2 linked regions of the Homo sapiens genome follow. The protein of the gene in region 1 purifies or fractionates together with the protein of each later gene. This does not show direct contact. Each region holds a gene or a part of one and is shown on either strand. Other genes may lie near its edges. The genes, in order: AKR1D1 and PLXDC2.

The links.
Region 2: the proteins of AKR1D1 (region 1) and PLXDC2 purify together in Homo sapiens (affinity purification with mass spectrometry; 2 studies listed by BioGRID and IntAct, with this or other methods). This does not show direct contact.

Annotation. Positions count from the first base shown.
Region 1 is NC_000007.14:138,082,644-138,086,469, forward strand, and holds part of AKR1D1 (aldo-keto reductase family 1 member D1), read left to right. Parts: intron 1-3,826.
Region 2 is NC_000010.11:20,284,659-20,288,484, forward strand, and holds part of PLXDC2 (plexin domain-containing protein 2 isoform 1 precursor), read left to right. Parts: 3' UTR 1-3,826. UniProt on the Homo sapiens protein: May play a role in tumor angiogenesis.

The sequences.
Region 1 (3,826 bases):
CTTCCAAAGTGCTGAGATTATAGGCATGAGCCACCATGCCCAGCCTCAAGCTTATTTCTTTAATCAAAACAATCATAGTTATTTTAACTTTTGACTAATAATTCCAATTTTTCATTGTGGTATTACTCTGTGACTGAATTATTTCACTTAGTATAATGTTCTCCAGGTTCATCCATGTTGTGTACTGCAGAATTTCCTTCTTTTTTGAGGCTGAATAATATTACATTGTCTATGTACCACATTTTCTTTACCTGCTCATCTGTCAGTGAACATTTAGGTTGTTTCCATATCTTAGCTATTGTGAATAATGCTACAGTGAACATGGAAGTGCAAATATTTCCTCAAGATAGTGATTTTATTTCCTTTGGATATATACCCTGAAGTAGGATTGCTGGATCATATGGTAGTTCTATTTTTAATTGTTTTTCTTGACCAACATGTTCTAATATATCTTTAATTTTTTTAGGAACCTCCATACTGTTTTCCACAGTAGCTGCACCATTTTACATTTTCACCAACAGTGTACAAGAGTTCTAATTTCTCTACATCCTCACCAATAATTGTTACCTTTCAGTTTTTTGATAATAGTCATCCTAATGGGTGTGAGGTGTTATTTCATTGTAGTTTTGATTTGCATTTCCCAGATGAATAGTGATATTGATATTTATATACCTATTGGCCATTTGTATGTCTTCTTTGGAGAAATGTCTACTCAAGTCCTTTGTCAACTTTTTAATCAGGTTAGGTTTTTCTTTGGGGTTTTTTGTTTTGTTTTGTTTTGTTTGTTTTTGCTTCTTTGCTATTGAGTTGTAGAAGTTCCTTTTAATTATATCTTGGATATTAACCCCTTGTGAGATATACGGTTTGCAAATATTTTCTTCTATTCCATAAGTTGCCTTTTAACTCTGTTGAGTGTTTCCTTTTCTGTGCAGAGGCTTTTTAGCTTGATGTAGTACCAACAACCTATTTTTGCTTTTGTTTCTTATGCTTTTGGTGTCATATCCAAGAAATCATCACCTATCCCAATGTCATGATGCTTTTTCCCTTATGTTTCCTTCTAGGAGCTTTACAGTTTCTGGTCTTAAAAATCTTTAATCCATTTTGAGTTGACTTTTTGTGTATGGTGTAAGATACAGGTCCAATTTCACTCTGATGACAGTTCCAATATTAGGATCTATGGTTCTGTTTAGGCTCTCAGTTGTTTCTACCAGTCTTCCTTTATGGAACTTTGTTTTCTGGGGTACCTGAATTCTTCAGCTGTGTGCAGGTTAATACTACTTTTAAAAAAGTATTTGTGAGCGAGCATCAAGGGTGAAAAACAAGTATTTTCTTTCAGACAACATTTGTGTGTGTTTGCTCCAGGTTCCCTGGAGGCATTGCTACCCAGTGACGATGTGAAACTGGTCAGCAGACTCCGGCTACATAGGTTATGAATTCTCCCAGGGACTGGAGGTGGCCATAGCCTGTTAGGGAGTTTTTTTACTTTCCTTTTTCATCTCCTACACCTCTCATTTCTGCATTCAGACTTTCCCATAAAATGTAGTTTGAATTAATAAATGCCTACTGTCTTTTCAGTACTTTTATGGTAATCTTTTCAAAAGTTTTAATCTAGCTTTTTTTTTTTTTTTTCTTTTTTTGAGACAGGGTCTTGCTCCAACACCCAGGCTGAAGCGCAGTGGCATGATTACGGCTCCCTGCAAATTCTGCCTCCCAGGCTCAAGCGAGTCACCAGACCCGGCTAATTTCTGTATTTTTTATAGAGATGGGGTTTTGCCATGTTGCCCAGGCTGTTCTCAAACTCCTGGGCTCAAGCGATCCTCCTACCTCAGCCTCCCAAAGCGCTGGGATTACAGGTGTGTGCCACTGCGCCAGCATAATCCAGCATTTTTAATTTTCTTAAGTAGAAGGAGATGCTGTCAGCCATTTTAGGAAACCAGATTTTTTGTTTTACTGTTCAGTGAGATTGTCTTTAATTGTGGAATCAAATTTTTATATTTTAGATTCTCCTATCATATCATTTATGTGGTATCCTATTTGATCTTTCCGATTTTTTTCAAAACTGGTTTTCCTAAAAAATGTGTCACAATTTATGTAGAATTTTTTTGTGCCACATTTAAGAATTACAAAGTGTGGGCCGGGTGCAGTGGCTCACGCCTGTAATCCCAACACTTTGGGAGGCTGAGGCGGGCAGATCACAAGGTCAAGAGATCGAGACCATCCTGGCCAACATGGTGAAACCCCGTCTCTACTGAAAATACAAAAATTAGCTGGGCTTGGTGGCACACACCTGCAGTCCCAGCTGCTCGGAAGGCTGAGGTAGGAGAATCGCTTGAACCCGGGAGGCAGAGGTAGCAGTGAGCTGAGATCATGCCACTGCACTCCAGCCTGGTGACAGAGTGAGACTCCGTCTCAAAAAAAAAAAAAAAAAAAAAAGAATTACAAAGTGTGGTCCTCATGTCCACAGTCCCAACTAGTTCCTCCATACTGATGAGAATTAAGTACAAAATAGTAATACATCTCACTGCTGCTTCTGCCTTCTGAGGGACAATATTTTTCAGCAAGTATATAAATATAAACATATAAATAAATAAGTAAATAGTAGATATCCAGTAAGTAAATATCCAGCTTTTAGAAGAGACTCCCTGGTGATAGCTGAATAATTGAAGATTTTCACTACTATAACTTGCTTCTGTGCCATAATCCTTATTAAATGAGTCATCATCCAAATATACAGCACCATGGTGGACTACACTCCTACCTTAGCCCTTGCCTTTGCCACTTTCTTTCTTTTTCTTTTCTTTCCTTTTTTTTTTTTTTTTGAGACAGAGTCTTGCTCTGTCACTCAGGCTGGAGTGCAGTGGCATGATCTCAGCTCACTGCAACCTCTGCCTCCCAGGTTCAAGAGATTCCCCTGCCTCAGCCTCCCAAGTAGCTGGGATTACAGGTGTCTACCACCACGCCTGGCTACATTTTGTATTTTTTAGTAGAAATGGGGTTTCACCATGTTGGCCAGGCTGGTCTTGAACTCCTGACCTCAGGTGATCTGCCCCGCCTGGGCCTCCGAAAGTGCTGGGATTACAGGTGTGAGCCACCATCCCCAGCTGTACTTTCTTTATCCTAAATGCTCTCCTCTGTACTTCATTTTTTGGGTTAATCTTCAAAAATACAAGCACCTACTTTAATACGCATTTGTCTGGGGCTCCCTTCATTGTGTACTTTAGCTCTTCATTTAAATGATCAGTTCCAGCCCATAAAATCTCAGTGATGTTTCTGAGATTCTATTTACCATCTAGTATTAAGCTTCATATATTAATAATATGTAGAGGGAGGCCAAGGCAGGAGGATCACTTGAGCCCAAGAGTTTGAGACCAGCATGGGCAACATGGCAAAACCCCATCTCTACAAAAATGTATGCCAGGCATGGTGGCACACGCCTGTAGTCCCACTTACTCGGGAGGCTGAGGTGGAAGAATCACTTGAATCTGGGAAGCCGAGGCTGCAGTGAGCCATAATCGTGCCATTGCACTCCAGCCTGGGTGACGGAGACCCTGTCTCTAATAATAATAATGATAATAATGTAGATACTTGAGAATGAAAGTAGATGTTTATTTTCTTCCCTGTAAATTTCTGGACACCACGCCTCACCTCCCCTTCCCACTGTACTTTGGTTGTCACACTTGTCATTCATAACATCTCATTTTACAGGCTTTTTTCTGGCCTTTTGACTCAATTACTGTCCAAGTCCTATTAATCATGTTGTTATTTAATTAACCAAACAAATATTTCTAATGTTGCTGAAATGTGTGTCTCCTTTTCCCAGCTATTT
Region 2 (3,826 bases), on another chromosome or scaffold:
GCCCAAAGAGATATAGTAATAGTCCCAGTGTCAGTAAACTGGGTCTTGAACTTAAATGTTTGTTTCAGTTCTCATTGCCTTCATCTCTTAATTGTCGGCACTTAAGGCCAACCAAGCAGCTTAGACAGCGCAGTCCACTCAACGGTAACTTTATTTGCTATATTGACAATCTGCTCTGTTCTGTAATATAGAACATTGGATCAATCTTTATCTTTTTGCTGACTTAAGGAGGCTGCTATTGTTGCAATATCCAGAGATTTCAAGTTCTAGCCATTGCGGGGTCTTTGTGGTGTTTTCAATTTCTCCTCTCTCCACCCCTGCCCCCATCTGTGGCCATCTAAGTTAGCAATACAATTTATTTTGGCCATTTAAAATTTTTCTGCCTTTGTTTTATTTCTTCCCAAATATATTTGAAAATGAATGATCTATATAGCTGATTTTCTGACCACATATATAATTGCAATTTTTATTTGCTCTTCAAACTATTACAACATTTTTGTCCTTATAAGGTTTTTTGGGCAGATAATGCGAGGTCTGTGGTGTTACCTTTTATATACTCCTATTACCTTATGTTTGTGAAGCATTTTACATTTTACAGAGCACTTTGATTCATCTCCCTATTTGTTCATTTATTTAACTGTTCAGTTCACTGAAATATTTATTGAACACCTACTGGAACCAAGTGACTGTGCTAGTAACTTGTGATATACAGTAGTGAGAGTCCAGGCATGTAACCGATCATTATAATACAATAACATCCCTAAACCAGACTTTACAAGTAGATAGGATCAACAATACTCTATCAATTTTCAACTCCAATTTTCTATTCTACTTAAAATGGGAACTAGAAACTGTTTGCCTGAAGAATGTGTCTGAAACATAATATATCACTGCATGTCTGTGCTGTAGACCTGTTAATTTTATCTGTGAGAAAAAAAGTTACTCAAAATTCTCCCTGACCTAAGAATACTTTCTAGTTCACTGCAGTCTTACTGACCAGATGCAACAGTTGAAGTTTGATTTCTCGACCCAATATTTCTATTGGGTTTTGAATTATTAATATCACTGTTTTGAGGTATTCAGAAACACCAGTGTATCAAAAAAGCATTTGCACTTTAGGTGTGTGTGGTGGTTATGTCATTTATTAGACCATCCCAGACATAAGACAATCAGGGAAATCAGAAAACTCCAGCCTCAAATGTGTCTATAATTTCCTGTTCTACCATTGTCATATCATAACATGGTATTACTTCTTAAGGTTTTGATTAAGTTGATCTAGCCTCAACTTAAATTGTAATACATCTGCCTAATTATTGTCTGGAATAACTTTTCAACCATCCAATGCCCACTGCTCTCACAATGATTATTGTAGAGAAGTAAAATGGTAATTATTCAAGTAAAGTCACATAATTTCTGGAGTCAGTTTTTCATAACAAGTTTATGGAATACATCATCATTGGCTTCTTCATAATATATTTATTATGAGTGACCAAATTTTGCCTGGAGGAGCAAAATGCTCAAAACTTGTTATTATAGGTTAATTTCCAGCTCACTGTTGACACTGAAAGATTCTGTGTTACTTTAAACCCAGGATAAAAGGCTGGAAAAAAAATTAAATGTAAGTCATAAACTAGTACTCAGCTTTTCCTAGTTTCTAAGGCTTATTAACATTTGCAAATTACTCAATAAATGTCTTTCATAATGGAATAACATAAAAGCTTTTGATTTGGCAGATAGTGATATTTTATTTATTTTCATTCTGGTTGAAAAAAATCTCAGTGGCTTCTCTTCATTCCACGAGAATTTTGATTTTTAACAGCAGTCTCTCTTTTTCTCAGCATTGCAAATATATATGTATATATACATTCATGACCAAAGTATCGCTTACTGACCATGCAGCTGTAAACCTTCTGTGCCTATCAAACAAATACATAGCATGAAACTAATTTTAGAAGTTTCATGGGGGAATTTTAGGGGAAAGTATAAACCTAAGAGTGAGTGAATGGAGATGATTCATGGAAAAAAAAATAAAAATCTAAATGTGCTATTAGGCAGAGTTATTAACTTCTTTTAGTTGTTGTTTGAGATGGGGTTTTGCTCTTGTTACCCAGGCTGGAGTGCAATGGCGTGATCTCGTCTCACTGCAACCTCCGCCTCCCAGGTTCAAGCGATTCTCCTGCCTCAGCCGCCCAAGTAGCTGGGATTACAGGCATATGCCACTACAGCCGGCTAATTTTGTATTTTTAGTAGAGACGGGGTTTCTCCATGCTGGTCAGGCTGGTCCCCAGCTCCCGACCTCAGGTGATCCGCCCACCTCCGCCTCCCAAAGTGCTGGAATTACAGGCCTGAGCCACCGTGCCTGGCCGAGTTATTAACTTCTTAAGAGCAATGTGCTAATAAATACTCATTGATGACCAGCTCAAATTTAGGTCATTCAGACATCCAGACACTGGGGCACATATTCTGCAAGCAATGCTGAGACCCCTGACATAGAGAAAGCAAAGGATATGCCTATGATTAGTCTAAAATGCAGCCATCACCCCCCATACCTCTTCTATGGCATTCATCCTAACATCATGGAGGCCTTTGTCCTAGAGAATTATGTGACTTGCCCTAGAGAATTAGTGAATGACCAAAAAGAGACTTTCCATTTATCTTCCTTTGACTTAAAAGGCATGAAAATAAGGCAAAAAAATCAATAAAATAATTTTCCTGAGGAAAGGTTAAGAGATGGCACTTTCCTTTCCGGGCCCAGAGCTGGATTTCTCTGAGATTTGACCATCTCAGGACTCAGACAGACTCCAGTGCTATTTTCTGGACATTTGTGGTGAAGCCTCAGCCACCATGTTCAAGGTGGTTTGAATGAAAACATACTCAGATTGTCACATTTATAGCAGGGAAATAAAAACTCAAATTAGGCATCCTGCAGCAGGCTACTCTGAAAATAACATTAGGCAACATCAGAGCTTCACTTGCAAAGAAATGTTAAAATCATTTTAGGGAAATCAGTGAAGTCTCTTTAGAAACAGACATCTTGTGTATGGCGTAACCCAGTCTTGGGGCCCTCACGGAGAAGAGGGGGAAGTCTTTTCATTGATTGGTCAAAACAAATCTCTCATTTGCCTGATTTGAAGCATTTCAACAGTGCCTGGAGAGTACATTATTTTCAGGGGAAAAAAAGGAGAGAGTCTTTTTTATATGCCAGCTGGGATCATGGGAACTTCGAATGCCAGGAATTTACTACTGTTTCTGGTAATTCTGTGTGTAGTCATTTGAAATGTTGAAGTGTGAAAAGAGAAGAAATTGGGCACTTCTTGCGGCGGGGGAGGGGGGGGGGGCGGTGGCTTTCCAGATTTTATGCCAGTTGCACCAGCATGCAGAATATTTGTAATGCATTTCAAAGTGGATATAATGGCACCCTTTGTCAGAATCACAAAGCTCACTGCGGCACTGCTACAAGAGGACACTGAGGAAAATCTGGCCCTATGAACCTAGTCAACCCCAAGCAAAAAGAATGACTATGTGTGTGAGTGCAGCACATGGCCAGTTCGTTTCTCACTGTTTTGGAAAGCCCTGTGTGCCAAACCAAGGACGTGTCTTTCAGGGAAAGGTTAATTTTCCGAAGTTTATTAAAATAGAACTTGGAAAACCAAGCATTTTGAATTTATTCCAGTCCTCTGGGCATCATTCCTATTTCTTCTGCCATGTCAAGGAGAAATTCCAAGCCTGCATTCTGTCATGCTAAAATAACCAGCCCATACTTCTCGGTGACCTTCTGTTGAACGTACCTGAGCCTGCAAATGTAAAAATGATTGTATCTGAATCT